Regions from separate parts of the Homo sapiens genome. Here all the other regions are linked to region 1. The links come from fine-mapping of genetic effects on gene expression. A gene starts in region 1. Each other region holds a variant in brackets. All regions are shown on one strand. Distances are from middle to middle.

Region 1 (10,979 bases):
GTTTGAGGATTTTGAGCAGAAACTGACAAAATGCTAAGATTACTTTTTTTTCTTTTTCTTTTGAGACAGGGTCTCACTCTGTTGCCCAGGCTGGAGTGAGTGGCACAATCATGGTTCACTGAAGCCACAACTTTCCCAAGCTCAGGTGACCCTCCCACCTCAGCCTCCCAAGCAGCTGGGACTACAGGCGTGCACCACTGTGCTTGGCTAATTTTTGTATTTTTTGTAAAGACAAGGTTTCACCATGGTGCCCAGGCTGGTCTCGAACTCCTGGGCTCAAGTGACCCACCTGCCTCATTATTCTAAAGTGTGTTGAGCCACTGCGCCCAGCCTAAGATTAAGTTTTTATTATTATTATTATTATTATTATTATTATTATTTTTGAGATGGAGTCTCGCTCTGTCACCCAGGCTGGAGTACAATGGTGCAATCTCGGCTCTCTGCAACCTCCGCCTCCCGGGTTCAAATAATTCTCCTGCCTCAGCCTCCTGAGTAGCTGGGATTACAGGTGGATGCCACCACACTGGCTAATTTTTGTATTTTTTGTAAAGACAGGGTTTCACCATGGTGCCCAGGCTGGTCTCGAACTCCTGGGCTCAAGTGATCTACCTGCCTCATTCTTCTAAAGTGTGTTGAGCCACTACACCCAGCCTAAGATTAAGTTTTTATTTTATTATTATTATTATTGAGATGGAGTCTCGCTCTGTCACCCAGGCTGGAGTACAATGGTGCAATCTCGGCTCACTGCAACCTCCGCCTCTCAGGTTCAAACAATTTTCCTGCCTCAGCCTCCTGAGTAGCGGGGATTACAGGCGGATGCCACCACACTGGCTAATTTTTGTATTTCTAGTAGAGACAGGGTTTCACCATGTTGGCCAGTCTGGTCAAACTCCTGACCTCAGGTGATCCACCTGCCTTGGCCTCCCAAAGTGCTGGGATTACAGGCGTGAGCCACCACTCCCGACCCCAAGATTAAGTTTAATACAAACAACTTTTAAGTGAGTCCTGTGTGCAAGATTGGGGATATAAAGATGAATAAAGATATTGTGGCTTTTGAGGCTCAAGTCTACAGCCTGAATATCCTGGTAGCTCCCTACAAAGGTAGCTAATCAATACAGGACCCTAAAAGAAAGAGGTCAGAGGTCACCACAGGCCTCAAAATAGCTCATTGCCTCTATCTTGTGGAGGATGCAGGAGGCATTGGAAGGCAACGGGGCTTCTGTTATATGCACAGTTTCCACTGGGCTCTCTCATATTGCCTCAGTATGGTTCATTCCCTGAGTGTGAGTATCTGTATGACTTCCACTTGCTAGTGAGGGGCTACCACCATCTTCTAAAAGTGCTCTGCCAGACGTGGCTGACTACTTGTCAATTGTGGGAGAGAAACAGCTTTGTGTCCCGTTTCTGGGGATGAGGCTGGGAGAAGGGTGTGAGTGTACACAGGGACAACTTCCTCTGATCTCAGCACTGTCATCTGATCAAGCTAACAACATCCATTTGGCCACTGCTGGGTGCCTACATGACATTCCACACAATGTCCGGGGAGACAGAGAAGGTGAGCATGTCCTAGGCCGCAGGAACCTCAATACCAAAAGAAGTGGTCAGGACAACCAGGTACAACATTCCTTGAGAACAAAAACAGCAAAGAGAAACAGCTTAGTACCTAAGATCCCATGCTCTGGCACTGACAGGCCTGGGTTTGAATACGAGCTCAGGCACTAAATAATCCTGTGGCCTTAAGCCATTTGCTTAACTTCTTTGAGACTCAGTTCCATTCTGAAATTGAGGGCAGTAATATTTGAAAATCAGGACAATAATATTTGGTTGAACCATATGAAACCGTCATTTAACCATTTTCCAACCTTCAAAATGGCCATTTCATATATCACATCATGCAGGGCTTTTTGAGAATTAAAGGAGATATTACAAAAGCCTGGTGCACACTAAGTACTCAATAAATGACTGTTATTGTTGTAATCAGCAAACAAAGGCAAACCAATAGCATCTAGAACATAAAAGGAGATGTGGCCCAAAGATGTGCTCACGAGGCTGGGCACGGTGGCTCAAGCCTGTAATCCCAGCACTTTGGGAGGTGGAGGCAGGCGGCTTACCTGAGGTCAGGAGTTCAACCAGACTGGCCAACATGGTGAAACCCTGTCTCTACTAAAAATACAAAAATTAGCCAGGTGTGGTGGCGCATGCCTGTTAATCCCAGCCACTTGGGAGGCTAAGGCAGGTGAACTGCTTGAACCCTGGAGGCGGAGGTTGTAGTGAGCTGAGATTGCACCACTGCACTCCAGCCTGGGCAACAGAGCGAGACTCTGGCTCAAAAAAAAAAAAAAAAAAAAAAAAAAAAGATGTGCTCACTACCAGATCTAACTCTGGAGATCTGGAGAGGAGGTCATATGATTTTTAAAGTTATTTTAGAACATTGAACAAAAGGGTATATAGTGCAAAGTAAGGCTTCTTCCCATGCCTGTACTTCAGCCATAGTTCTCCCCAGCGGCAACCACTGTTACAGGTTTCTGTGTGTTCTCTCAGAGATATTCAGAGCATCTACAGGCATTCATATGTATGTGGCATTCACACACCCACCCAAAAATCGTGGCCCACCATACACACTGTACTCAACAATATAACTTAGAGATATTCCTACATCAAAGTATATATCTGCCACATTTTCTCTGCACGCTTTATAACAGCTTTAATGTATCCTATCGTGTGGCTTTTACATGATCTTATTGAAGGGTTCCTTATTGATGGACATCTAGATTGTTTCCAACCTTTTGCTAAACAATGCTGCAATGAATATTCAATGATGTACACCATTTCATATACATCAGAGTATATCTGAAGGATAAAGTCCCAGAAAATGGAATTTAGGGGTAAATGATGTACACTTTAAATTGCCAGACATTTCTTTGGATTTTTTTTTTTCTATCAGGAATGGGAGGAACATGCTCTCCCCTACAGCTGGTGACTTCTGAAGAGGGCAGAAGAGGCTCCACATTTTTTCAGCTTAGTTGTTAGTTTCAATGAGTTTGGGGCCACAGGCTGCACCCCACAATTGCCCAACTCTGAGCAGGCCCCCTCAGCAGTCTATGGGAAGGTGGTAGAAGTGGACTGAACCATACGTTAGGAATTTAGGAGGCTTGGGTTTCAGTTATGGCTCTTCCACTTTTTAGCTATGTGACCATGGGCATATCACAACAATTTTTTTTTTAACAGACAGGATCATCAGCCTCCCAAGTTAGCTGGGACTACAGGCCCACACCACCACACCCAGCTAATTTTTAAATTTTTATTTATTTGTAGACACAGGGTCTCCCTATGTTGCCCAGGCTGGTCTTGAACTCCTGGCATCAAGCTCTCCTCCTGCCTTGGCTTCCCAAAGTGCTGGGATTACAGGCATAAGCCACTGCAACTGGCCTAAATCACAACTTTTCAGAGTCCCAGCTTCCTCCTTTGGAAAAATGGGGCCAATAATATGCAGAAACACTAATACCGATGTTCTATAAAGCGTTCAGTGATGGTACTAGCCCTATACACAGTGTCTGTCACATAGAAGACAGTCCAAACAGTTTGATGAAGGAACTGATAATTCTCCCACTGAATTTTTTAAATGGTCTTTCAAGTGTTTTACCTGAACCAAGGCTCTGTCTTGGAAGAGTTTTATGAGGTGGATTCATAGTAAAAGCTATGGAGGAGATATCCTGGCAAGCAGAAATCCCACAAGGAGAGGAGTTTCCTTCCAGATGAGGCTCTTCACCGCCTCTGCCACCCCCACTAAGGCCCCTGGTTCCTGGTGACCGAGTCCTCGCTAAGACTCCTAGGACACAATGCTCTGTGTCATTCGGCGCCCAACCTGTTTTCTTTTCTGCTTGAATGACCTGCTCCTAGGAGTCGAGCCTGAGCCATAGGGTCCCAAAGACAACACTCAGAAATCACAGAAGAAATAACCTGAGGTGAGATGGGGAGGGGTGCGGGAAGGGGTGAAAGGGAGCGAGCACCGATAGCAAGGTGGCAGCCTGCACGTCCGCTCCGAGGGCCCTTCCCAGGAGCGGCTGGATCTGACCGATCCCCAAGTCCAGGTACTCCCGGGGGAGGCTCCTCCTGGCCTCGCGGCGCGAGTCCCCTGGGGCGCCCGGCTTCCCAAGCCAGACCCGCGCTCCAGCGCTCCCCGCCGCTGGGAGCTCGCTTCCAGGTAGGGAGGCACCTGCTCCGGATCGTCCTCTGGGCCCGAGGGGCCGTCCCCCGCGCGCAGCCTGACGCCCTCCGCCGCGGCGCAGCCCCAGCCCACCACAGCGGCGGGAGCGCGGGTCGCTCACCTCCAGCGAGCTCGCGGCCGTCCCCGCCGCGCACTGGGCACACGGGCGCCCTCGGGCCGCCGCCGCAGCCGACCTTGCGTCGCTCTCGCCGGAGTCCCGGGCTGCCGCCGGTTCTCCCCTCCCCGGCAGCAGGGGTCGTGGGCTGCGGGGCGGGGCGAGGCTGGAGCGGGAGGGGTGCCCGCGGGCTCGCTGCACAAAGCCCGGCCGAGCCTTGCTGCGCCCCATTCAACGCTCCGCCGGGCGCCCTCCTCCCCTCGGCTCCCCGCCCGCTCCTTAAAGGCAGAGCGCTGGGCTCAGCTCTCCAGGCAGCTCGCGGAGAGGCACAGGAAATGACCTCAGCAGGCTCCAGCCTCCCACTTCTCCGCACCGCTGGGCTCGTCCCTGGGGCGGCAGGGAGGGCGGCGGGGTGTCCCGGGCGCCGGCCCGGAGCTCTCCGAGGAGGCCGCACCAGCTGCCGCAAGGGGTGGCCAGAGCGCCCCGGGGATCTGCTTGACCCCAAATAGCGGGGGACCCTCGCGGGCTGCGGGACAAGACCAGACCGTCTCCGCCAAAGGTTCCAGCATTCTCCTGGCCACCTGTGGGAACTGTAACGTCTGGATATTTGGAACAGAAGTCCATATTTCAGTCTGGCAGACCAAATGTTCTGAGTTGCAATTTGCAGGAGAAAAAGAAAAAATAAGTTACGACAGCCCAGAGAGTAACTTACTTGCTTATTTTCTGGTCTCGCTATGTTGCCCAGGCTGGACTCGAACTCCGGAGCTCAAGTGATCTTCCCGCCTGGGCCTCCAGGCCGGCTTATGTATATGTTATTTTAAAGGAGGGCCCAGGAGGACCCTGGCTGCCAGGCAGTTTGCAGGGCAGTCATCAGCGTGCCCATGTGCTCCTCGTTCTCAGACATTTGCAGATCTCAGATCGCCCAAAGCAATCTCATACCCAGAGGGGTTGGAAAACTCAACATTTGGCTAGGTGAGCCTGGAGTAAAGAAGATGCAAATAGAGACCATTGCAGGGAGGGATCCACACTTCAAAACAGAGCCTTCTTCCTCAACCCTGCAGGCTCTCTGTCAGTGAAGGACTGAACAGAAGCAAAATACCATCAGCGCCTGTTTCTCCAAATGGTCCTTGGAAGACTCATCCCAGGCACCATGAAGAACACCCCCACCCTGGGTTTGAATCTGAATCTCTAACTAAAGTACCCCAGGCCATTCTCACGTAGAAGTTTTGAGAGCCCAGACACTAAGGAAAGCTGGTAGTGCAGGAGGCCAAACGTGAGAATTTAACTGGGCCAATGGGACTTCAATGGCTGAACTTGCAAACAGCTTTATAGCTCGTGGGGATTGGGATAGATTAGCCCCATTTTGTGGGACAATGCTCAGGCTATCCACTTCAACATTCCAGAAGTTGCATAAGGAAGCCCAAAAACACGTTCTCTGGATTTTGCTAAGAAGACATTAATTCATTCATTCACTTTTTTTTTTTTTTTTTTTTTGGACATAGGTTCTTCTTGTTCTGTTCTCCAGGCTGGATTGCAGTGGCACAATCATAGCTCACTGTAACTTGAACTCCTGGGCTCAAGCAATCCTCCCATCTCAGCCTCATGAACAGCTGGGACTATAGGCACATGCTACTATACCCAGCAAAAAAAAAAAAAAAAATTTTTTTTTTTTTTTAGTAGAGGTGGGGTCTCAAACTCCTGGACTCAAGAAATCCTCCTGCCTCGGCCTCCCAAAGTGCTGGGATTACAGGGATGAGCCACCGCACCTCGGCCCAGAACTCATTTAATATAACTTTGTTATATAGTGAAAAGAGACGCACCATGGAGAGTGGAATGGGAGGAGCATGCTCTCCCCTATAGCTGGTTACTTCTGTAGAGGGCAGAAGAGACTCCACATTTTTTTCAGCTCAGTTGTTACTTTCAATGAGTTTGGGGCCATAGAGTGCATCTCACCATTGCCCAACTCTGAGCAGGACCCCTTGGCAGTCTGTGGGAGGGTGGTAGAGGTGGACTGAACCCTACATTAGGAATTTAGGAGGCTTGAGTTTCAGTTATGTCTCTTCCACTTTTTAGCTATGTGACTTGGGCAAGTTACAACTTTTGTTGTTGTTGTTGTTTTCTTTTAAGAGATAAGATCTTGCTCTGTTGCCTAAGCTAGAATGCAGTGGCAATCATAGCTCATTGCAGCCCAGAACTCCTAGGCTCAAGCAGTCCTTCTGCCTCAGCCTCCCAGGTAGCTGGGACTATAATACCCACCATCACCCCTAGAGCCCCTTTCTTTGGATATTAGCTTATTATTACAAGTGACCTGACAAAGGAGAATGGAGGATGGAACAGAGAGATGGGAAGAAAAGCCATCATGTGCCTGAGTTGAAGGATATGCTAGGGCATTCTTGTGAAAGAAGATGAGGCCGGGATGGGGACTTGTCAACTGGTCTGAGCCAATTTAGTCCTTCAATGATTGTATTAGCTGCCATGGGACGTGAGAGGTGAGAGGAGGCCATTCGTCTTCTTTTCTGTAATCTCCTGCAGGTGGGATATTAAAAATAGTTAAGGCCAAATTCTGCCAAATATACATGTATTGGCAAGCTGGCACAAAACAGTCACACAGCCTGCTTCAAGAAAATGGGGCAGTTGGCCTGCTCTGGCTCTCACACTCCATTCATGCAAGGGCAAATAATCTTCCTGGCCAACTCCATGTTTTGAAAACTGCTTATTTCACCAATAAAAGATTATTTCTAGCATCCCTCAAGCACATTAAGCCCTTGGGTGTATATTTTGATGTTGTTTGAAGTGCTTATGTAACCATTTTCTGGAGTGCGGATTCCTGATTAGGGCACTTCAGATGCTAACTAACCACTCTAGGAGTTACAGGAGAGTCACTTTATATACACACACTACATGGTTTAGGCTGGAATGTTTAAAAAATAAATTCCTACAGAGTCAATATTACAGCATCTTAGTCTGGGCCTTGTTCCTTGGACAGCACTATGGGAGGGAAAGGGGAACTTGGAACTGGCCAGAGCTCAGTTTAAGCTTTATCACTTAAGTGGTGGTGGGACCTTGGGGCAGTTGCTTAAGGTTTCTGAATTAATTCCATGTTTGTAAAATAATGATGATAATAATTCTGGCCTCTTAGGGTTGTTGAAATGATTAAATGAGATAGTATGTTGTCTGGCATGCAGCAAGTGATCTATAAATGGAAGCTTTTGTTATTTATTCTTTGAACAAATATTGGCTGGAGTTTACGAGAGATCTTGTAAATCTCTGTTTACAAGATTGCAATGGATAAGCAGATGGCTTGAGAGACAGGAATAACTCTAGGAGAGCTGGTGAAATGGTTGACAATTCATCTTCCCTTGTACGAGCCTTCTAGAAACCCTGCTTCCCATCCCTACCTGCTTTCTCTGAGCTCCAAAGAGACCCTCTCCTATATCACCAAAAAAGCCTCAAATCAAGGGATCCCCTCCTCCTGCCTTCAGGACCTGGTTCTCAGTTACTGTTGGAAGGGGAAGAGAGGGGAGAAGAAGGAGAAGGGAGTTTCAGACTCCCAGGAAACTTGGGGCCAGTCCTAGTCCAGGCTTCTGCTCTCTGCCTTGGGTCACAAAGAAGTCAGGAGGTTACTTCTACTGCTGAATCTTTGGGAGCAATTTGGCTCTTCGGTGATTGTCAGGATTAGCCACCATGGGACATGAGAGGTGAGGTAACCATGGGTTAGAGCAGAGTGTCAAGAGTCACCATCTAAGTGGGGCTAGGAAGGCAGTGATTGGACATGCAGAGAAGGGCCAGTTAGGAAGGAAAGGAAATGGCCCAGTGGCTAAATCCTCAGTGTGTGTGTGAGCGTGTATATGTGTGCATGTGAGATGGGTATGGAAAGATGGGAGGAAGTGTCCTAACTTTAAGTATGGACTCTTCTTTCATTTATTCATTCAGTTACTCACTAACAAATATCTATTGAATACTTGCTATTTTCCAGCCACTGTGCTAGGAAGGAAAGTGTGGCAAGTGTGACCTATCAACTCTGGGCACAGGCTTTAGAACTAGACATGCCTGTCCTTGAATCCTGGCTCTTCCACCCAGGGGACACAGGGTGGAAGTAATGCAGTTACCACATACATTCACTGCAAATAATCTGTTCAGTATACCTGTGGGTATGGGAGCCAGAGAGAGCCAGGCAGCGGATGGGGAGGGGAGGGAAGGTGTTCCTCGTTTGTAAATCAGGAATCAGAATTCCTTCCTTAGAGAGTTATTATAAAGATGGAGATAAAGGGCCTGCCTCAGTGCCTGGCATATTATTGGAATCTAGTAAATATTATGAAATGAGGAGGGAACTTGAAGGTGTAGAGGTGTAAAGGACTAGCAAGGCGCCCAAAGACTAGGGAGCTGGAAAGTACCCAGGAGGAGCAGCATGGAAGGAGGGCCTGGTGGAGAAGGATTCCAATGAGGAGGTGGGCAGTGATTCCAAATCTAACCTCATGTCTTAAAATGCTGATCTGAAAATACAGATTCCAGGCCACCTCTAGCTATTCAGATCAGTGGGCCCAGGAGTCTGCATTGTCACGCACCTGTCTGGGGTCTGTATTGACTGGTATGCCCTTGAGTGATTTTTCTCAGAGAGCAACTGCCAGGGCGGAACTGATGTAATTACAACACATATCAATGCAAAATGCTCTGTCCGCTGCAGCTGCGGGTTATACGGGCAAGAGAGAGCCAGGTGAATGGGGGCTTAATGGGATAGGGACAGGAGAGGGAGGGAGAAAGAGCACCTGAGTTGGGAGCTGGTGGAGCTCAGGGAATGAGGATCAGGTAAATCCAGCCATCTGACTGCAATTCTAGATCATTTTAGAGTTTGCAACATCCTAGTTTTAAAGCAGCTGTCTTATTTCTCCAACAGCTTTCATCAAAGATGAGAACAATGGCTGCTCACATCAATTGGGGGAGGGAGGAACTGGGCAGGGACCAGCTTTAAGTAGGTGGCAGGTTCTCCAACAGCCCAGGGAGCCTGTGTGGGGAGAGACTAGGGCTCCAAGAAGCCAAGGAAACCCAGGCCTGTCAGAGAGCTGCCAGTGACCCTTTACTTTTCTGGGACACATGTGTGGCCGCTGTAGACAATGGGTTTTCATGCTGACAGTGGGGTTCAACTTCCAGAGTTCAAATTCCAGCTTTGGCACCTAGCTCAGTTCTTGGCACTCAGTAAGTACTCAGTAGATGCTGGTTGTTATTATTATCTCCTCAGCAGAAGACAGACCCAAGCCAAGAGAAAGGAAAGTCTCCCAGCCCTACCTCACCCTCACACTCCAATCTATCTGAGTCCCCACCAGCCCATCTCAGAGCTGAACTACGAGAGGTCCTGTGTTCATACATTCATCATGTGCTTGCCGAGTGTCCACAGTGGGCCACTGTAGGAGAGGGAGAGCGTGGAGGAGTAGGTGGCTCAGTACAGGGCAACTGGACTTTGGAGGGCCTCTTCATGCTCCTTGACCTCCCCTCCTCAAAGCCACTACTTTCGCTGACAGGAAGAGGCCAGAGGTCTGGGGTGGGGTCCTACATGCAGAGCTGTGAGTGAGTTCTTGCTCAGCCACTACTTTGCTCCGCAATCTGAGGACATCTCAGCAACTCTTTGTGCCTCACCTAACTGTAAAATAGAAGCAGGACCTTCGTGGCTGCCATCCTCAGCCTGGAGATAAGGAATTAATGGACACTTCACCAGGGTCATGCTGGGGAATGAGGGGCTGCTGCGGTACAAAACACATTGTTGGTTTATCTGAGAATTGCTGAATGGGAATAGAAGCAACTTCACCAAAACACACCGGGGACACAGCCAGCCATTGCAGGGCACTGCAAACAAATGAAATCTTTCTTTCTAATCTCCTAATTAAAAATCGAAACATTTAAAGCCATATTTATTGAGGGCTGACTTTGTTCCTGACCCACTAAACATTTTAGGAGGAATCATCTTTTTTTTTGAGATGGAGTTTCACTCTTGTTGCCCAGGCTGGAGTGCAATGGTGCGATATCGGCTCACTGCAACCTCCGGCTCCCGAGCTGAAACAGAGGAATCATCTTAATTCTCACAATTCTCTGGAGCTGAAGCCATTTTTATCTCCATTTTATAGATGCATAGACTGAGGCTCACGAAGACCAAGTGTCATGGCTAAGCTCAGATAGCAAGCAAGTGGCCAAGCCAGGACACAAACCCTGCCCTGCCTGACTCTAAAGACCACGCCTTTAGCCACTCAGGTCTTGCCTCTGCTCAGGGATGTGTGGGTTCCCTTGCGGGGCACCTTCCAGGCTGAAAGGTTGCAATGAGTGAGCCACAAGTACCCTGGGATTCACAGAAAAGGAAATAAGTGAAACACATGGATAGAATGAGCTGACCAAGCCATTGCAGCTCCCTCTGCCCTGCCCCTAGTGGCTTGGCCTGAACCAATAGGTCTATTATCTCCCTTGATGGTCAGGACTTCTCCTTGTTGTGCTCAGGGTTTTCGATGGTGTGTCAGGGCTCATACCCTACTGGAAGCTCTCTTTGCCCTCCCCTCTTTGTAAAAGGGGGTGAGTTCTGATGACAAACCTGCCCTCAGTATGGAAGCCCTGGACATGACTGCCAGCACATTGGAGACTATCTCTCAGCACCATCTAGTGGCCAGGATGGCTTGT
Region 2 (8,574 bases), 54 kb before region 1:
AACAGAGCAAAACTCTGTCTCAAAAAAAAAAAAAAAAAAAAATTTGCAAGTGGATGCAGCACCACTGCACTCCCTTATATTCTCACCTTGACTCCGCATTTCTCCCCTTTGGAATTCAGAGTGCCAAGCCCCGGCTGGACTGCTTGATTGAAGTATACAGGAGCTGCCAGGAGATCCTGGCACACCAGAAAGCCACATCAACAAGCCCATGAGCCCCAGCGTTCAGAAGGCCAGCATTGTCTTCCATGGGAGATGACTCTTAAGCCATAGGGGCTGGTTTTCCGTACTCCAAACCATCAGGTGGACACAGTCCTAGGAACCATTATGGATGTAGTGCATCTTAGAGCCATAGAGCAGGTGACTGGAAATCTAACTCAGTATATTTCCGTGTATTATAGTGTTTTCCTTGTAAGGTTTTGCCTACTTTACCAAAGGAGGGGAGACCTTAAGAATTTTGACACAGTATGTCAAAAGTAATGTCAGCAAAGAACACTTTCGGAAATTGCTAAGCATGTTCAGGTTTACTTTGTTGATGTTTGTGAAGCAAAACAATGGGAAACTGACATCAGATGTCTTGAGAAAGCTATATTTTCCAATAGTACCCCTTGTGTAAAGTTACGAAAAAAACAAGCCCTTCAGTACTGGTTAGCAGGAAGAAATGTCCTACAAAAGACGAGTCTGTCAACCTAGTGCCTGTGTTCTGTACAGGGCTTATTTATTTACTGTTAATAAACAGATCTTCCAAAACACACAGTTACCTGGTTCACAGATAGCTGCTTTTTATTGACAAACAAGATCATAGTATTTCAGTCATGGTGTCAAGCACATTAATACTTTTCTGTTACTCAGCATTTTTTTTTATATCAGTTCAAAAGCTACTTTTGCCAAGAAGGATGAGACAAAAGGCCAGACAGAAATTGGACTTTGGTTTTCAGACATGGGACTCTCATGTTAACAAAGAATAAATAAGCAAATATTGAATCCTTTGTTTCTAAGTTAGTTTCTTCTGTATAAGATTAATAAACTAAAGGGTTCCTGAAGGGTTGGGGAGGAGAGAGGGTGGGGGAAATAGATTGACCCCAAATTCAGTGTGAACACAGCTCCATTCTTGTTTACTCTTCCTTTGGACTCCTACTTTTCTTCTAAACTCTCTGGGTAGATAATGTTATCCTTATTGGCCTTAGAGATACCCAAGATATTATAAAACCAGAGCTGTTATGTCTGTCACCAGCCCTGCAGGAATTATTCAGGAACCTGTGGTACATGTGACTTGTTCGAGGTAGAAATGTCTCAGCTAGATCCCCAAGTTGTGGGGTGAAAAGTGTGAACAGAAATGGCTGTAAAACTACTTGCCTTGCAAAGTCAAGTACATTTAAAAGAGGCAGAAACTTGGATGTGCTTCTTTTTTCATCATGCTTGTCAGTTTACGGGGTGAGAGAGGAGAAGCTTACAGCAGCTGAGGTGTTCAGATAAACTAGTTCTGGCCTCGCAGTTTTTGCTGTGCAAAAGATACACACATTGTTGGGGTTAAAGGCTTGGTTTTGGGTGCTACTGCTAAATATACAGTTTTCAGCACTTTACTGACATATAGTAAGGCTGCCTTAGAGCTAGGAAATAAAACTCAGTTTCCTAGATGTTGGAAAATCAGAGTATGAACTCTTTCGTTTTGTTTTTGTTAGGGGAGGGTGTGTCTACAACCTGTCTAGAGGAGACTGTCTAGTCTCCTCTGCACTCAATCAGAAGGTCTGAATTGAGGGGGATTATGGTATTATCAGTAAGGCAAAAGATGAAAGAAACTTTTTTTTACCTGCTACTCTTAGGCTAGGGCAAATGTCACATATGTACCCTCACCCTCAAACTAATTCCCAGCAGAAGTTTGCCAGAAGTCTCAAGGAGCATATCCAGGCCCACATGCCTGAAATAGTCTTCTGTGTTTCTGACTCATTTTTGGTGGTCTTACAGCAGCAAAAAGCAGAGTGCATTTGCTTGGTCTTTTACAAGAAGAAGGAAACAAATGATGGCCCACTACAGTGAACACAGCCTTCACCGAGCGCTGTCCAGTCATTAAAATGAGACAGGGAGGGGTCAGATTGGACCTACCTCCTGCCCTTGCTTGCACATTGCGTGGTACTGGGTTTGGCCTAAAGTCCAGTGTGAGGAAAACAGCTTGAATCTTAGCAGGTATAGCATGTTATCCTGCAAAGACTGCCCCAGAAGGGGCTGTACCAATGCCTACATACCAATAATGGGGAAAAATGAGTCTATTCTTTTTTCTCCAACTCTGTCAGCACCTTTCCCATTTGGGAAAGGCAGCCCAGTTTAGTGAGTTCTAGGCTTCTGACAGAGTGTAGGAGAATTGGAAATTTTAGTCCTATCCTGTTTAGCGACGTTCACAAAACTTCAAGTATAAATAAGACCATATACAATATTAAAAAATTAGCTTCTGGGCTGGGCGATGGCTCATGCCTGTAATCCCAGCACTTTGGGAGGCCAAAGTGGGCAGATCACCTGAGGTCAGGAGTTCGAGACCAGCCTGGCCAACATGGTGAAACCCCGTCTCTACTAAAAATACAAAAATTAGCCGGGCATGGTGGCGCACACCTGTAATCCCAGCCACTCCGAAGGCTGAGGCAGGAGAATTGCTTGAACCCTGTGGACTGGGTGACATAGTGACACTGTGTCCCCCGCCCCCCCCAGAAAGAAAATTAGCTTCCTTGAGAGTACCAGTGCAGAAAGCCTTAACTTATAGCACTGATGCCCTCAGTAACAGTGGATCATCCCTGTCTATGTCTAGAATCAGGTAGCATCTGGAGTCATTATTCTTATGAAAAAAGGAATAAATGGTTTTAACACTGGGTCTGGATTTTAAAAAGTTGAGCCCTGAAACATTATAAGGCACCTAGAGAGTAAAGGCTTCACAGAGACTAAAATACACATTTCACAGAACAAGAGTAGCCGGGGGCTGTTAGACCCGTCACAGTAGTATCATACCCTAGGATATATATCTCTAAATCCAGAGGCACTAGTGGTGTTGGGGAATCGGGTAGGAGAAATATTCACAGCAACGTTGGCCCCTTGGTAGCACAGGAAACAGAAGAAAAGAACTGTCGTCCATCCAGTTCCCACAGCTGGCAGGCTCCGGGTGGGTTGGTGGGGGGGTTCACAGTTGTAGTGCAATGGTTCATATAGCTGGCCATGATGAAGGT[A/G]GCTTCTGCAATCTAAGAGGAGGTCAGAGATGTGAAGGAATTGAACTAGCCTTGGCTTGAATCCTGGCTTTCTTACTTATTAGCTCTTATGCTGAGTTCCTGGGCCTCAGTTTATTTAATCTCTTAAAATACCCACCTGGGAGAAAATATCCAAAGGGAATCATAACTGTGCTGTTCAGAGGCCCAGTGGTGTGGGCTCCTGTTGGTCTGGAGATCCTCTCAGATGCACAGTGCCCTTCTGAGAAAAGGAGGCCCAGTGTTCTGCTCTGGTTAGCTCTACAACCAGGGAAGGGGCCTTCTTAAGAAAGGGATCTGGAGATCCTCCCCTTTAGCAGGGGTGGTATTAAAGGAGGAGTAGGTTTGGCAAACTCTAACTTTAGGATTAAAAAGGAGAACAACAGGGTTTCCAGTTAATCACACGGGAGTCAGGAACAATAAATCAGAACTTAGCCTTTGTAATTATTATTTTTGCTGGTCAACACTTCCTGTATTGAGTAGGAACAAAGTCACTAAAGCAAAAGAGGTCTTTTTGCGGTCTTCCCCACAACAAGGAAGAGGGAGCACTGTGGGACTGTCCCACTTTGTAGCTAATGTTGGGTCAGCAGAACCCAGGGGTAACATGCGAGCACCTTAAAGAGGAATCTGCCCTGCCTTGAGGACTGCTGCAAGGAAGAGAAGAGCACGTAAGCACCCAACTGAGGACTGCATGATGCTGGGGCTTGAGAGAATAAAAAAGAAAAAGTGAAGAGCATAATAGTAGCTAGGCCAGAGTTAGTTCCCTCCAAATATGTCCCTTTACCTACTAGCTGAACATTGATACGGAGATGCAACACCACCTGAACCTTTGGAATACTAATTACAGACAAGACCAACAATTTTATCTGGGCAGGGCCCTTGCAGAGCACTAGCATAACCCCAGTTTCCTTTCTAAGCTCCAAGCCCACCACATCTTGCCAGAGTAGAACGTTTTAACAGCTGTCAGACCTACCTTGGGAGCAGCCATCCGGAAGATCAACTTCTCAATGTGGCTTTTTCCAGAGCTCTTGTCTGGGATAGATCTAATCACAAGCATGAAGTCATCCCTGCAGCCACCAAACGTTGTCACTGAAGAGTAGGGGTAAGTGATGTGCACTTGCTGTGGAAAGGAACCAGTCAGTTGTGGGGAAACTTTCCACCTGTCCCCTGAGCTAGGAACCAGCATCCCCTGTCTCTTCTAGGCACAGGAAAGGAGAACTCCCAAGTGGTCATAATTTGGAGATCTCCATCTTGAATATCTACAAGCAGTGTCTAGACTAGAGGACTGGTGCTTGGGCAGGAGTGGGGGTAGGGCAGCCATGGTCACTTGGTTCAGGCTTTTGAGTCCACAGAGGAGAAGAAAAGACCATGTTGAGGAAGAGGAGGGGTCAGGGAGCAGCCTGCATCCTTTCATACCATAGTGTTGTGGTCCAGGATGCTGACGCCATCCTCATTCACAGCAATCCACACCAGAGCGTTCTCCTTGGAAGACAGCTGGGCAGGCTGGGGAAACAGAAACAACCCATCAGATATATCCATAGTTAGAGATTTTGAACTATAATAACTTTCTGAGAAAGAAGGCACATCCAGGGATCTGCTAAGCAGTGATTTCCAGCCACCTCATCTTGGAAAACAAAGATGATATTTGTACAGTGTATGCAGGAAATAGACAAGGCTGCTTGTGACAGGAGACCCTTGGCCTTGGGGCTCTGGCCACCTACTAACCATCTCAAAGGCAGAGGCGATCATTCTTTTGATGTCCCTAGAACCCATGCTGCCACAGCACACTGGATGGAAAGCTCTGTGCTACAGAATAGAGGCCAGCCCTAGCTGCTCTGTTAGGGGAATGGGGAACAGCTGGTTTTCTCCTAGTCTTGGAAACACGGCATTCCACCTATAGTCTCCAAGCCGAAGTGCTTCTGACTTCAGCCAATCTCCTAGGTGCTGTAAAAGAAATAGGAAAGCAAGAATGCAGTCCTGTGGCTTTAGGCCCTATCAGTAAGAAAGTGACTATTTAGTGGACATTCCTGTAATGACTAATTTTCACTGCCAGGACTACAGTATGGTAATCCAGAAAATCTCTCTCTTAACCCAAAGGGAGGCAGATAGACATTGGACATGCCACCTTTTTCAGAAGCTTTTCCTAAGCTCCCAGACCAAGTGGGTCCCTGTTATATGCCTTTATAACACCTCTGTACATCTTCATAGCATTTGTGATGGCTTATAAATATATATTAAATACATAGAGAAAAAAATGAATACGATTATTTGATGAATATACATCTCCTGCACTAGATGGGAAGCTCCAGGAAGGCAAGGACTGTGTCTGATTTTCTCACTTCTTATAACCTCAAACAACCAGCACTGGACATAGTAGGAGCTCAACTATTTGTTGAATGAATGAATGGCCATTTTCCGATCTGTGGCTTCAGTAAACAGGATCACTGCCCAGCTTTGAGCTGTAATTATCTATAAAGTTTATGCACAACAGACACCCAGTGAAGAAAAGTTCCTTCTGAAATTACTGTTGGCCACCTGGCCTTCATACAGAGGTGAAATTAACTGTTGGCTAAGTAATTTGATTCCCCTGTATGCCATGTCAAACCAGTGGAGATGTATTTGTTTAGGTTATACATTGTTCTTTCAAACTTTAAAAAAAATGAAAGCACTCTTGAGAGGGCTGTTATTTCAAGTCTGAATCTTTGTGTGTGTGAATTAGTTGATCACATCTTTTCTTTTGGGGCAGTCAACAAAGGACAAATGAAGATAAGCAATCACAATTCTGCTCTGGACTGTGGAAAGCTGGACTAGGCCAGAAACAGTGGAGGGATAGTGACCTCTGGTGGTTACTGGTATGGAGGTAGGGGCTGCAAATTGGTATGGCTCAAACATGAGCAGTTGGGGACACACCTAAGGGTGTGGGCAGCTCCTTCCACTGGCACTTACCTGAGCAGCAAAAAGTTTAGCACCAAAGAAAGGCCATTTCCTGGCCACGGTCAGGTAGATGCGGATGCACTCAGGAGGGGAGCATCCTTGCAATGTTGCCCATTTTGTGGTCAACATATCTGCCAGGTGCCTGGTGTGGGCAGATGGAGAGAAATAGTGCCAATGAAGTGCCGACGTGTCTTCATTCCAGGCCTGAGACCTCCCCACAGTGACTTGCTGCAAGACCTTGTAGCCTACCTACCTCAGCTGTTCAGCGGGGGCCCCATGTCTATAGCGCCTGGGGTGGAACCTGTCTAGGACCTGCTGGAGAAGATGCTGAGCCTTGGCAGGGGATGTGCCTCCAGGGCCTGGCAGGGCAGGCTTCTCCAAGTCCCCATATTCTACCTGTGGTAGAAGCATATGAAGAGACCAGTCAAAATCTGACAGTGGATGGGCCAGGTGGGGGCTGTTGAGAGGTGAAATAAACCATTTCTTTATTACCCTATTGGTGGGGTGCGAGTGGTTGTGAAAAATACTTTAGAAAAACGCTTCATCTCAAGTTTTATAGACACTAGAGAAACAAACTTAGGGCCCTCGAATATTAGAGATCACCGACCAACTTTGATTTTGCAGCTGAGGTGAAGTGCCTTTTCCAAAGACACAGTTAATTGGTAGCCGACAAGGGAAAACAATGTGGAAATTCTGGCTTCCAGTCCAAAAATATGGGCTATAGAATTGAAGATGCTACAGATCCTAGAGTACAGCAGAGTGTTCCAAATGTGGCCTTTGGAGTTGGACACCTGGCGCAAATCCCAGCTTTGTGTCCCTGATCAAGTTACTTAAACTCTCTGAGCTTCAATTTCCTCATCTATTAGGTGGGAATAAAAACTACAATGGAGGATGCATATATGCTTAGTACAGGGCCTCCTAGAGAGTATTCCTATTGATATTTATAAAGATCAACTATTACTGTTTCCTCTTCCTTTCCAGCATGTAAATCCAGATTCTTATTCTTTTTTAAAAATTTTTAATTTTTAATTTTTGTGGGTATATAGTAGGTGTCAGACTCTCTTATGGGAGTCATGAAGGTATCCCAGATACCTTTGGCAAGATGGCCTTCTAAATATAATGGGAAGGAGAGTCCAAGTCTGAATGTGTGTTCCTCTTCCTAAGTCTACTTAGAAGGTCTGATGGTTTATGAAGTTTACCACATACATTACATGATACAATTATCCAGGTATCATACTTAGTACAACCCTGTGGAGGCTGGCAGAGGTTTTTGTTTGTTTGTTTGTTTTGTTTTGTTTTGAGACAGAGTTTTGCTGTTGTCGCCTAGGCTGTAGTGCAATGGCATGATCTTGGCTCACTGCAACCTCTGCCTCCCAGGTACAAGTGATTCTCCTGCCTCAGCCTGCCGAGTAGCTGGGATTACAGGCGCCCACCACCACACCCAGCTAATTTTTATTTTTATTTTATTTTATTTTATTTTTTTTCAGTAGAGACAGGGTTTCACTGGTCAGGCTGGTCACGAACTCCTGGCCTCAGGTGATCTGCCCGCCTCGGCCTCGCAAAGTGCTGACATTACAGGCATGAGCCACTGCTCCCGGCCAAGTATTTTTTATTTTGGTATACTGAGAAGGAAACTAAAGCATAGAGAAGTGAAGTGACTTGGCTAAGACCTCATAGTTGGAAGGTATATAGGACTCAAACCCAGGTCTCTGGATTCCAAGTCCAGCCATCTGCACGCATCCTATATCTGCGGTGAGTGAGGAGCTCTGATCTGTAGAAGTCAGCTGCTTTCCATCCCAGAGATGGCAAAGCTGCCCTCTCCTGAGCACCACAGGATCTGCAGAATCTCTCCTGTGTTTCAGGCTGCATGGTGCATTCATTCTAAGCTGGCAACCCGACCCTCCTGCTTCCTGAACAGAACCTTACCTGGGCCATCAGGGCAGCCATCTCAAGAGCCAATTCCTTGTTGATAGGAAACCTCCCTGCCACTATCTCTCTACTGGTTTGAGAGGCAAGGAGCAGCCGTTCTCGGTCCGTCTCCCCTTTGACTTGACTGCGAAAGTACAGCCTACAAAGAAGAGAATAAGAAACCAGGACTCAGCAGGGATTCCAAACAGGGATGGGGCTTTCTCTGGGTCTGTTACCTTTATTTCCAAAAAGATAAAGTACTCTTTTCCCACTATTTATGAGCCTATTTTGTATTGCCTCCAGAAACATATAACCGAGTATGACACAGAGCAGATGCAGGGTCATGCTGATCTCATACCAACAGGAGGGCATGGTTCATTCTGAAGATACCATTAAGCTTACTGGATTTAGTAAGGGAAATCTGGTACCTGGAGTTATAGATTAGGGGACTGGATGAGGTAAGAGTCCAAGAGACTACTGGAAACTATTTGCCTGGAGACATACTGAGATG
Region 3 (10,979 bases), 34 kb before region 1:
AGGAGTCAAGGCCCGGGTCCCACACCTCCCCGACTCACGCAGCCCAGGAGCTGCTGAGACTTGACCACCCACCCGGGACCCGGTCTCTGGGGCTGGGGGTGGAGCTGCTGGGGGGTCACGAGCTCAGATCAAGTGGGGACGCCCATGTTCAAGTGCCCATGGGAAGAGGTGAGGGGCTCCTTGCTGCTGCACCCTGCCCCTGCTCCCCTTCTCTGTACCTCTCTTGATGGCCCGGGGGCTGCCTAGTCCGCTGGTCTTCCTGGACTCAGAGGAGGGGACCGAGATTCGGAAACTCGCCTGAGAGCTGCAGTCATCGTCAGACCCAGAGGACTCGTCCATAAAGGGCATGTTGCTGATCTGTGTAGCTCTCTGCAAGACAGGCCCCTCCCTCACTGCAGCTCAGGCTGCAAAACAGTCCTCTCCCAACCCTGCAGCTTGCACTCCTGGTCCAAGTGCCCATGGTGTGGCCAACCCCCAGCCGGGACTCTGAACAGACAACTGTCCAGTGTAAGGTCCCTCCTGGCCTCACTCCTGTGTCATGACCTCCATGCTTCTCAGGCCTCCCTTCCCACACACCATCTTCTGTGGTCCCCAAAGCAGCTGCCCATCACGACTGAATGCCTGCCCACTGTGACCCTCGCTCCTTGCCACTAGGGGGCCAGAAAGCTACACCACAGACTAAGTGTGCCATGCGAGCTTTAAAAATGTGTGGGGACGTCGCAACAATCAATGATTGCATCTCCATTGGCAAACATTTAAAGTGACTGACTATCTCAGTGTTGGTGAGAGTATGGGGAGAAGATGGGGGAAAAAACTCTAGTGTGTAAGGCATTTTTAGAAGGTAATTTGGCAGTACCTGTCAAAAATTAAAACATGTATATAATTTGCCCAGAAATCCCACCTCTAGAACTCTGTCCTACAGACACATGTAGATATAAGTTCCCAAAGATATATGTGCACAGTGATGTTCATGGCAACATTCATTTTAGAGAAAAACAGGGACACAGACTAAATTATTATTGGAGGAAAGCTTTAGGTATTAATAGTTATGGTGCTTCGATACCAAGGGTACTGGACACCTATAGAAGGAGGAGGTAGGGGCCAGGCATGGTGGCTCATGCCTGTAATCCTAGCACTTTGGGAGGCTGAGGCAGGCGGATCACAAGGTCAAGAGATCAAGACCATCCTGGCCAACATGGTGAAACCCCGTCTCTACTAAAAATACAAAAATTAGCTGGGCATGGTGGTGCGCGCCTGTAGTTCCAGCTATTCAGGAGGCTGAGGCAGGAGAATCGCTTGAACCCAGGAGGTGGAAGTTGCAGTGAGCCAAGGTTGCACCACTGCACTCCAGCCTGGCAACAGAGCCAGACTCTGTCTCGGAAAAATAAAAAGGAGGAGGTAGGGAAGGATGACCTGACACGTGGTTATTCACGTGGTTAGGGGAACAAGCAAGGCATAGAATGACATGTATATGAGCACCTTTTGTGTGCACACAGGAGACAGTGAGAGTGTGCTGCATATTTATAAATGCATCGGAAGGCCTTACTGAATAAACACTAAACCATTCATGATAGCTTCCTCTGGGCTTAGGAATTAGGGAAAAGCGACGTGAGAGGAAATTTCACTTTTGGTTTTTTATTCTTCTATAAAAAATTTTATCAAGTATTACTATTATTCAAAAACCAGTAACAGAGACAAAAATGTGTATGAAAATATTGCAATTCTATCTGATTTTTGTTTTTAAAATGTAGTGACGTTACGGGAATATAAGTTGGAATATACCTCAGTAATTCTAGAAGGAGCCCCACTGCCCTCTGGGACCTGAGGAGTGAGGCAGACATGAGAAAAGGTGGGGAGAGCTGTAAAGCGGGCATAGGCTTAACCTTCTTACCTTGTCCACGTTCATACTGATTCACATTTTTGTAAATGTGGAATTTTTATAATAACCTAATAAACAATAAAACAAAATGACACGTGCTGGGCTCAGCTCCCTGGGCAGGGTCACCATGTGCAGAAGCCTGGCCCTAGAGCCCCGCCCCAGTCATTGGATGATGAGGCCAGGGGCCTTTCCTGATGAGACACCCCCTCTTTGTGCAGCAGTTTCTTACCCCCTTCAGTGCTGTGTAGACAGGCACAGTGACATTCTTGTAGACCAGGCCAGAGAAAGACCCAGGGGAAACAAGGGCAGGAGGGCTTGAAGCTGAGCAGGGAAGAGAGGAATGAGATTACTCAAGGGCATAACCCAGGAAGGGGTGTGGGGGAAGCAGAGAACTGGGCAGATGGCATTCCCTCCAGGAGCAGGCCAGTGACAGATCTCAAGAGGGGGGCCAGGGCCCTGTTCATCTTCTCCCCTTGACTCCCTTTGGGGACCATGATCTCCATGTGGTAAAGGATCCCTCACAAAAGAATCCAAAAGCCTTACCTTTAACCATTTTTTCCTCCATGAGGCTTGCACAGTGTTCCACTGTTGCAGATGTGAGTTACAAATCATACGGCTATGGGACCACCCCACAGCCCTCGTTGTGGAGATTTGGTGGCTGGCTGGAGAGGAGCCAGTGAGTGGGGTTCATGTAAATCAGGACACTTGTGGCTCCTCCCACCCACGGCCCTGGCACTGCAGAAGCGAAGCCTGTGCAGGTGGGAGGCTGGGCTGGAGGCCCCCTCTCAGATCCCTTCCAGCTCTGTGACTGGCTACTTTCCTGTGATGGGCTGAACCTGTACGACTTCCCTTTCCCTCCTAGGTGGGACTTGCTGTGATTTCACCTGAACTTCACCTGCTGGGGAGGGGAACAGGGTAGGCCAGCCAACCCTGGCCCTGGGTGTTGCTTGGAGTCTTCTCCTCCCCGCTTGCCCACCCTGCCCACCTTGGGTGTTTGGTGCCTCCAAGCCTCACTTGGAACTCACCGCAGCATGCAGTATTACTTCTGGGAGACATATCTGAGAGCCGCATGCCCGATGTGGCCACAGCATAGATCCGGCTCTCCTGAAACAAGAGGTCTCAGGAAGCTCAGGGCCCGGCATGATGCCCATCCCACCCCCTCCAGGCATGTGCAGGAAAAAGCATGGCTTTGGGGGTGGGCAGACCTGTGGGGGGCAGTGACTGGCTAACAAATCTTGGGCAAGTTACTTCATTTCTGAGACTCATTTTCCTCTGCTCTAAATGGAGGTAATAATACTTACCTTTCAGGCTGCTGTGAGAATCAATGAAATACTTAACATAAGCATTTAACACCTGGAATATAATCAGTGCCCAACAGTTCCCTCTCTTGCCTCCACCCTTCACCTTTGGGGCAAAGGAGGTTCAAGAGAAGATGGGTCAGTAAACTGTTGCTCTGAATCCTACCCGTTTTAGAGACCCTTGGGTCTCAAGATCTAACCCCCAGAAGTTGGGGATATTGGTAATGAGGAAGCCACTGCGGCCACACGACAAGGGCTCTTTTGTAAGCCAGTTGTTTGGAACTTAGGGCACATTTTTAAAAAATTCTCTATTGTTTCTTTTTTTAAAAAATAATTTGTTTGTTTTTTAAGTTCCAGGGTACGTATGCAAGATGTGCAGGTTTTTATGTAGGTAAACGTGTGTCATGGTGGTCTACTGCACCTAACAACCCATCACCTAGGTATTAATCCCAGCATGCTTTAGCTCTTTTCCCTAATACTCCCCCACCGCCACCATCCACTGACAGGCCCCACTAAGTATGTTCCCCTCCCTGTGTCCATGTGTTCTCATTGTCCAGCTCCCACTTGTAAGTGAGAACATGCAATGTTTGGTTTTCTTGTTCCTACGTTAGTTTGCTGAAGATAATGGCTTCCAGCTCCATTTATGTCCCTGCAAAGGACATGACCTCATTCCTGTTTATGGCTGCACGGTATTCCATGGTGTATATGTACCACATTTTCTTTATCCAGTCTACCATTGATGGGCATTGGGTTGATTCCATGTCTTTGCTATTGTGAGTAGTGCTGTGATGAACATATGTGGGAACTTAGGGCACGTTTTTTCCCCTGCAGGAATAATGTCATATCATGGCTAGGCTTCAGGGCCAATCTACAAAGCCTATTTAGCCCAACAGGACTCCAGCACCCCCATGCAGAAGACACTGGGAGAATGCCCGTCCTGAGGGGGCCCCTGGGTCTGAAGTAGGCCACAGGCCAAAGGAGCTTTTCCTAATGGCCCTGACTGCTCATAAACAACCCACAGGGTTCCCTGCACCTTCTGGATCTGTTTGCTCCACTGAGCCTAAAGGAAAACAAAGGTGACGTGAGTCACCAAGGCTGACGAGGGAAGGTTGACCAGCCTTTGGAGGAATGCCCTGTTGGCTCAGGGAGGTAGCTAGATGTGCTGTCACCTGGTGGGGTCAGATGGGCTAGGAGATGGCATTGGAAGGGAGGTGGGTGCCTATCAGGGTGTCATCCCAGAGGGGAGCAGCAGCCCTGGGACAACTGGGAGGAGAGAGGGCAGAGCTGATGAGTGCTGCCATGAGACGCTGAGATCACTGGAGGGGCGGCAGGAGACAGAGGGGCGGTGAGGAAGGATGCCAAGGAGGGCCCTGCAGCAGGGCAGGGAGTTTCTGTGCTCGTGTAGGGCAGATACATCGAGCCCAAGTAAAATTCGGCATAAAAAGGATTATTTCTGCCCAGAGTGGTCATGGAATTTAACCAAGGACAAGCCTCTAACTTTGCAGAGGAAATGAAACTGAAGTTTGAAGGATTTAGGTAAAACGAAACCTATGACTGTTTGACAAAATGTTATCTAATGCCTAACTCACAAGGTTGTTTTAAGGATTAACTGAAAAAAGGGCTTTCCAAACTCTAAGATACATAAGTATTTCTCACACCGTCAGATTGAGAAATGTTCTCTGACATTTCATTCCCCCACCGCCCTCCCCAGATGGTTACTGCCCCATTGGTCCTGCCTGGGAGAGAGAGAGGCTGGGCTTCTGGCCACTGTGATTTCTTAAGCTCTCCCCGGAACACG[GAACACGA/A]GTGATCATGCCTCAGGGGCCTGGGAAGGAGCTAGCATTGTGTCTTGTTTTCCCCAGGAGCAAGTTACAAAGGGGATTGCAAACAGGATGAGATCTCCTTACATTCTTTTGGCTGATTCTTGGGTCCTTGGGGCCTAGCTGGGGGCAGGGAGGTTCTGTGGGAAGACCTGACGCTGCCCCTTAATACCTTAATCCCCTTAATACCTTCATCACCAGAGTTCAGCTGAGGTTCCTGGGGAGAACGTCATCTGATATATTTTCTATACAGAATAAGAGGAGACAATAACTCCTCGTCTCCCCATTCCTCCTCTCCTCCTCCACCCTCTCTCTCACACACATACACTTAACCTGTTCAGATAGAGAAGACCCACTCTTTTTTTTTTTTTTTTCAAGACAGGGTCTGGCTCTGTCACTCAGGCTGGAGTACAGTGGCAAGATCTTGACTCATGGCAACCTTCACCTCCCTGGGCTCAAACTTAACTTCCACTTAAGCCTCCTGAGTAGCTGGGACTACCGGCATGTGCCACCATGCTCAGCTAATTTTTGTATCTTTTTTGGTAGACATGGGGTTTCGCCGTGTTGCCCAGGTTGGTCTTGAACTTCTGAGTTCAAGCAGTCTACCTGCTTCTGCCTCCCAAAGTGCTGGGATTACAGGTGTGAGCCACTGTACCCGGCTCAAGACCTACTCTTAAGCTATCACAGTGAATGGCTGTATTTTGGCAAAATGGCAAAGTGAGCAACGCTTCTCTCTGGTAGCAGCTGCACATTCCTTGCCTGACTACTTCCTGCTCCCAACCTCTGCATTTGGACTCCAGAGCAAGAAGAGAGCCAGCAGCCCAGGGGGACCAGTGCTTTTCCATCCCCTAGTCTTCCTGATGTGCCCCACTCTTGGCTCAACTGGGTCTCCAGTCTTACAGGTGTCCTTGAAACAACCAGAAGCTGATCAACAGTCACTGCCAAGGATATAGCCCAAAAGTCTAGGGCTGTGTGCCTCCCGAACCAGCATTTCTTTGTTTTGTTTTGGAGATCGTCTCCTCTGTCGCCCAGGCTGGAGTGCAGTGGCGCAATCTCAGCTCACTGCAACCTTCGCCTCCTGGGTTCAAGCGATTCTACTGCCTCAGGCTCCCGAGCAGCCAGACTATAGGCGTGCACCACCATGCCCAAATAATTTTTGTATTTTTAGTAGAGATGGGGTTTCGCCATGTTGGCCAGGCTGGTCTCGAACTCCTGACCTCAAGTGATCTGCCTGCCTCAGCCTCCCAAAGTGCTGGGATTACAGGCATAAGCTACTGAGCCCGGATTTGAACCAGCATTTCAAAAGGAGGCCCTGGGAGTTACTGCTGGAAATACAGGTCTCCCGAGCAGTGGTGTGGGGTGAGTCCACCCTGATGTCACCCCCTCTCCCAAGTGACCTCATTCCTCCTGCTGCCAGGAGCCAACGCTTAGCTGTCCCCCATGGTACTGCTACACACCCCAGCAGCATCTGTGGAGGGGATGTCTGCCCATGAATCAAAGACTGACCTTAGCTCTGGCAATGTCCCTTAAGAGGAAGTACAGCTGGAATGTGAGAGCTGGGCTTCAAAGCAGCTGGAACTACATTTAAAGCCTGGCTCTCAGACCGGGTAAGGTGGCTCTTATGGCTGACAAAGGAGGATCACTTGAGGCCAGGAGTTTGAGACTAGCCTGGGCAACATAGGGATACTCCATCCCTACAAAAAATTTAAAAAATTAGCCAGGTGTGGTGGTGTGCACCTGTAGTCCCAGCTGCTCAGAAGGCTGGGGTGGAAAGATCCCTTGAGTCCAGGAGTACAAGGCTGCAGTGGACTGTGATTGTGCCACTGCACTCCAGCCTGAGTGACAGAGCAAGACACCGTCTCTCAAGTAAATAAATAAATAAAGCCTGGCTCCCTCACTAACTACTACATGACCTTGGGCAAGTACCTAAGTCTGTGGGGAACAGTGGTTTCCTGACCTGTAAAAGGGAGAAACCACACCTTACTCCTTGCAAGGAAAGGAGCCCTTCCCACAGGCTCCGTGCGAAGCCCTTAATACCCACATGCCATTTTCACTAGTGACCTGTGAAATGTCATTTTTATAGCCTGTCTCATTTTTATTTTAACTTTTTATCATGGAAAATGTCAGGTACAGGGCCAGACACAGTGGCTCACACCCGTAATCCCAGCACTTTGGGAGGTCAAGGTGGGAGGACCACCTGAGCCTGGGAGTTCGAGACCAGCCAGGGCAACAGCATAGTGTTAGCCCATCTCCACAAAAAATTAAAAAATAGCTGGGCATGGTGGTGCATGCCTGTAGTGCCAGCTACTCGGGAGGCTGAGGTGGGAGAATTGCTTGAGCCCGGGAAGTTGAGGCTGCAGTGAGCCATGATTGCACCATTGCACTCCAGCCTGGGCAAGACTGAGCAAGACTCTGTCTCAAAAAAAAAAAAGGAAAAGAAAAAAAAAATGTCAGCCTGGCCAACATAGTGAAACCCTGTCTCTACTAAAAATACAAAAATTAGCCAGGCATGGTGGTGCATGCCTGTAGTCCCAGCTACTTAGAAGGCTGAAGTAGGAGGATTGCTTGAGCCCAGGAGGCAGAGGTTGCAGTGAGCCAATATTGCGCCACTGCACTCCAGCCTGGGCGACAGAGTAAAACCCTGTCTCAGTTAAAAAAAGAATGATCTCACGTGCCCATCGCCCAGCTTGGCAAAGGTTAATGATGTGTGGCCAGTCATGCTTCATCTGTGTCCCCACCCTTGGCCACCAACCAGATCATTGCTTCTGAAGTATTTCTACCAGACAGATATCAAGACATTTTATCCAATGTTACAAGTAAGGAAGCTGGCCTGGCGCAGTTGCCTATAATCCCAGCACATTGAGAGGCCTAGGCAGGTGAATCACTTGAGGTCAGGACTTTGAGACTAGCCTGGCCAACATGGTGAAACCCCGACTCTACTAAAAATATAAAAATTACACTTTGGGAGGCTGAGGCGGGCGGATCACGAGGTCAGGAGATCGAGACCATCCTGGCTAACATGGTGAAACCCCGTCTCTACTAAAAATACAAAAAATTGGCCGGGCGTGGTGGCAGGTGCCTGTGGTCCCAGCTACTTGGGAGGCTGAGGCAGGAAAATGGCGTGAAACTGGGAGGCAGAGCTTCCAGTGAGCTGAGATTGTGCCACTGCACTCCAGCCTGGGCAACAGAGCAAGACTCTGTCTCAGAAAAAAAAAAAAAACAGTTAGCCGGGCATGGTGGCACACACCTGTAATTCCAGCTACTTGGGAGGCTGAGGTGGGAGTACCACTTGAACCTGGGAGGCGGAGGTTGCAGTGAGCCGAGACCGTGCTACTGCACTTCAGCCTGGGTGACAGAGCAAGACTCTGTCTCGAAAAAAAAAAAAAAAAAAAGCCAGGCTCAGTGGCTCATACTTACAATCCCAGCACTTTGGGAGGCCCAAGAGGGTGGATCACCTGAGGTCAGGAGTTTGAGGCCAGCCTGACCAACATGGTGAAACCCTGCCTCTACTAAAAATACAAAATTAGCTGGGCGTGGTGGTGCATGCCTGTAATCCCAGCTACTTGGGAGGCTGAGGCGGGAGAATTGATTGAACCCAGGAGGCAGAGGTTACAGTGAGCCAAGATCATGCTATTGCACTCCAGCCTGGGCAGTAAGAGTGAAACTCTGCCCCCTCACCCCCACCCCCCAAAAAAAAGAAAAGAAAAAGAAAAACAAAGAAAGAAAAATAGCCAACACTTACCTACCACCTACTGTGAACCACTACTGTAAGTACTTTCACAACAACCCTATAAAGTAGGTACTATTATCCCCATTTTATAGACAGGGAAGCTGAGGCACAGAGGTTCAGTAACATGTCCAAGGTCACGTAGTTAACAGTTCAACCCTAGTGGTTTGCTTCTGGGGCCTATGCTCTTGACCATCATACCAGACCACCTGAAAGACTCACAAAGATTAAATGAGAAAAGGTATGCAGGGCACCCAGCTCAATGTATGGTGCACGGTGAGCACTCAGGAAATGACAGCCAACCGCCATTCACATCATTCTGAATTCTGGCGCTGACCCTCACTGGTTGTGTGGTCTGCACAGGCTCCATGGTACCTGCCTGCCAGGGCCACCATGAGGATGCCAGCAGCCTCCTCTCCTGCTCAGTGCATGGCTGTGCTCAGCCAGCAGTGTTCTTGCCATTAGCTCTGCTCCTCTGCCCAGCCCGGAGGTTGCCTCTTACCCAGGATGAAAACTGGTGCAGCGGGGGTGTAGGTGGCTTGTTACCCAGCTCCACTTCCTCCAGCTCAGCTCCAAGGGCCTTTGGGCTCTCTCTTTCCTCATTCTTCCCTGCTGGGGGTGGCTCCTCCATCTCCATCTTCTCTGGTTCCTCCCGGGACCTAGCTCGGGACTCCAGCTCAGGAAGGCCAGAGGGGTGGAGGGCTGAGAAGGCCTCAGTCTCAATGTTCACCACACGGCCAAAGTGCCCATGGCCCACCTGGGGCTGGCTGTGGTGCCTTTTGGCCAACTGGATGCTGTCCCGCGGGGTGCCAGGAGCCCGCACCTTTGGTAGGGTCAGACTGCTGCCAGGACCACCTTCCCTGGCAGAGGTCTTTGTCCCAGGGAGCATCCCTCTCTGAGCAGTAACCAGACCCTCACCCCAGGAAGCTGAACTACATCTGAAGGTAAGAAGCTTCATGCATGGCTGGTGGGGAGGGCTCTCTCTTCCCAGATGAGGTTGAAGGGGCTTGGCCTCTACTGTTTCCCCAGAATGGACCGTGCTGGAACTAGAATCCTCCAAGGGGCTTGCTGCTTCAGAAACAGAGTCCTTGCTCTGCAGGGCACCTGGGGAAGGTGCAAGCACAGCTGCCTTCAGACCCTGGGCCTGGGAGCCACTGTCCTGGCCCATAGGCTGGATTCCCGGCTCTGAAGGGACAGAATCCTGCTCTGCAGCTCCGTAGGGGGGCACCAGCAGCTTCCGTGAAGGAGCTATCTGAATAGCTGTGATTCGGGTAAAAACAGTCACATTGAGAGCTCCCGTAGCTCAGCCCCATACCCACCAAACACACGTACTGCACACCTGCACACCCTGGCCTGCCTACCTTCTAGCGCATCTTGAAGGGATCCCACCTGCTCCACCAGGCGCTGATTATGGCTTTTCAGATGCTGATTCTCCATCTCAAGCTGAGCAAAAAGAAAAATGAAGATTTAGGACACCCAGCCTACAGGTTTAGATGTATTTTTTCAATTCTTTTTTTTTTTTTTTTTGAGACAGGGTCTTGCTCTGTTGGCCAGACTGAATTGCAGTGGAGCAATTTTGGCTCACTGCAGCCTTGACCTCCCAGGCCCAACTGATCCTCCCACCTCAGCCTCCTGAGTAGCTGGGACCATAGACACACACCACCAGGCCCAGTTAATTTCGTTTATTTTTTTGTAGAGACAAGCTCTCGCTATGTTGCCCAGGCTGGTCCCAAATTCCTGGACTCAAACGATCTGCCCACCTCAGCCTCCCAGAGTGCTGGGATTACAGGCATGTGCCACTGAGCGTGGCTGCTGCATATTCTTTTCTTTTCTGAGACAAGGTCTGGCTCTATCACCCAGGCTGGAGTGCAGTGGTGCAATCTTGGCTCACTGCAACCTCTGCCACCAGGGCTCAAACCATCCTCCCACCTTAGCCTCCCACCTCAGCCTCCCGAGTAGCTGGGACTACAGGTGCACGCCACTATGCCCGGCTAATTTTTGTATTTTTTGTAGAGACAGAGATTTGCCATGTTGGCCAGGTTGGTCTCAAACTCCTAGTGTCGAGCAATCCACCCGCCTAGGTCTCCCAAAGTGCTGCTGGGACTACAGGTGTGAGCCACTGCCCCCAGCCTGCATTTTCCTTTAAATTAAGTCCAACACACTTTTATTGAGTATCTTTTAGCAAGGGTTGGGACTGTGAGAATACGCAGGTAAGCCAGGCATCAGTTCTGTCTCCAAGAACTTGCAGTCTAGCA

Which allele goes with the higher level. Alleles are on the strand shown, and positions count from the first base shown. SD is a standard deviation of normalised expression in the study named.
For the expression in sun-exposed skin of the gene that starts at base 4,437 in region 1, A is the high allele of the variant in region 2 and G is the other (small effect, 0.12 SD a copy in GTEx).
With allele GAACACGA in place of A in region 3, the expression in minor salivary gland of the gene that starts at base 4,437 in region 1 is higher (moderate effect, 0.54 SD a copy in GTEx).

What was found. PIP is the estimated chance that this variant, and not a neighbour inherited with it, causes the effect. A credible set is the group of variants that fine-mapping cannot tell apart.
Region 2: its variant is the best candidate, but not a certain one, in a credible set for the expression of PLEKHH1 in sun-exposed skin (GTEx, PIP 0.82).
Region 3: its variant is the best candidate, but not a certain one, in a credible set for the expression of PLEKHH1 in minor salivary gland (GTEx, PIP 0.63).

What each region holds. Positions count from the first base shown.
Region 1 is chr14:67,526,748-67,537,726 of GRCh38, reverse strand. It overlaps PLEKHH1 (pleckstrin homology, MyTH4 and FERM domain containing H1), which reads right to left and starts at 4,437. Exons shown (of 29, transcript NM_020715.3): 1 at 4,329-4,437. It also overlaps a transcript of GPHN not described here and a transcript of TMEM229B not described here. RefSeq lists a silencer at 4,344-4,813.
Region 2 is chr14:67,581,718-67,590,291 of GRCh38, reverse strand. PLEKHH1 (pleckstrin homology, MyTH4 and FERM domain containing H1) reads right to left here. Exons shown (of 29, transcript NM_020715.3): 24 at 8,082-8,223; 25 at 6,409-6,551; 26 at 6,168-6,297; 27 at 4,638-4,724; 28 at 4,195-4,341; 29 at 680-3,218. The coding sequence ends at 3,057. PIGH (phosphatidylinositol glycan anchor biosynthesis class H) reads left to right here. Exons shown (of 4, transcript NM_004569.5): 4 at 120-974. The coding sequence ends at 212. It also overlaps a transcript of GPHN not described here. Among named protein-coding and RNA genes, the nearest start is that of PIGH, 14 kb to the left of the region's middle. RefSeq lists a silencer at 5,964-6,013. The variant A/G (reference allele first, on the strand shown) is at 3,207.
Region 3 is chr14:67,561,142-67,572,120 of GRCh38, reverse strand. PLEKHH1 (pleckstrin homology, MyTH4 and FERM domain containing H1) reads right to left here. Exons shown (of 29, transcript NM_020715.3): 6 at 10,086-10,167; 7 at 9,227-9,984; 8 at 2,905-2,983; 9 at 2,109-2,200; 10 at 219-369. It also overlaps a transcript of GPHN not described here. Among named protein-coding and RNA genes, the nearest start is that of PLEKHH1, 33 kb to the right of the region's middle. RefSeq lists an enhancer at 475-654. The variant GAACACGA/A (reference allele first, on the strand shown) is at 4,976.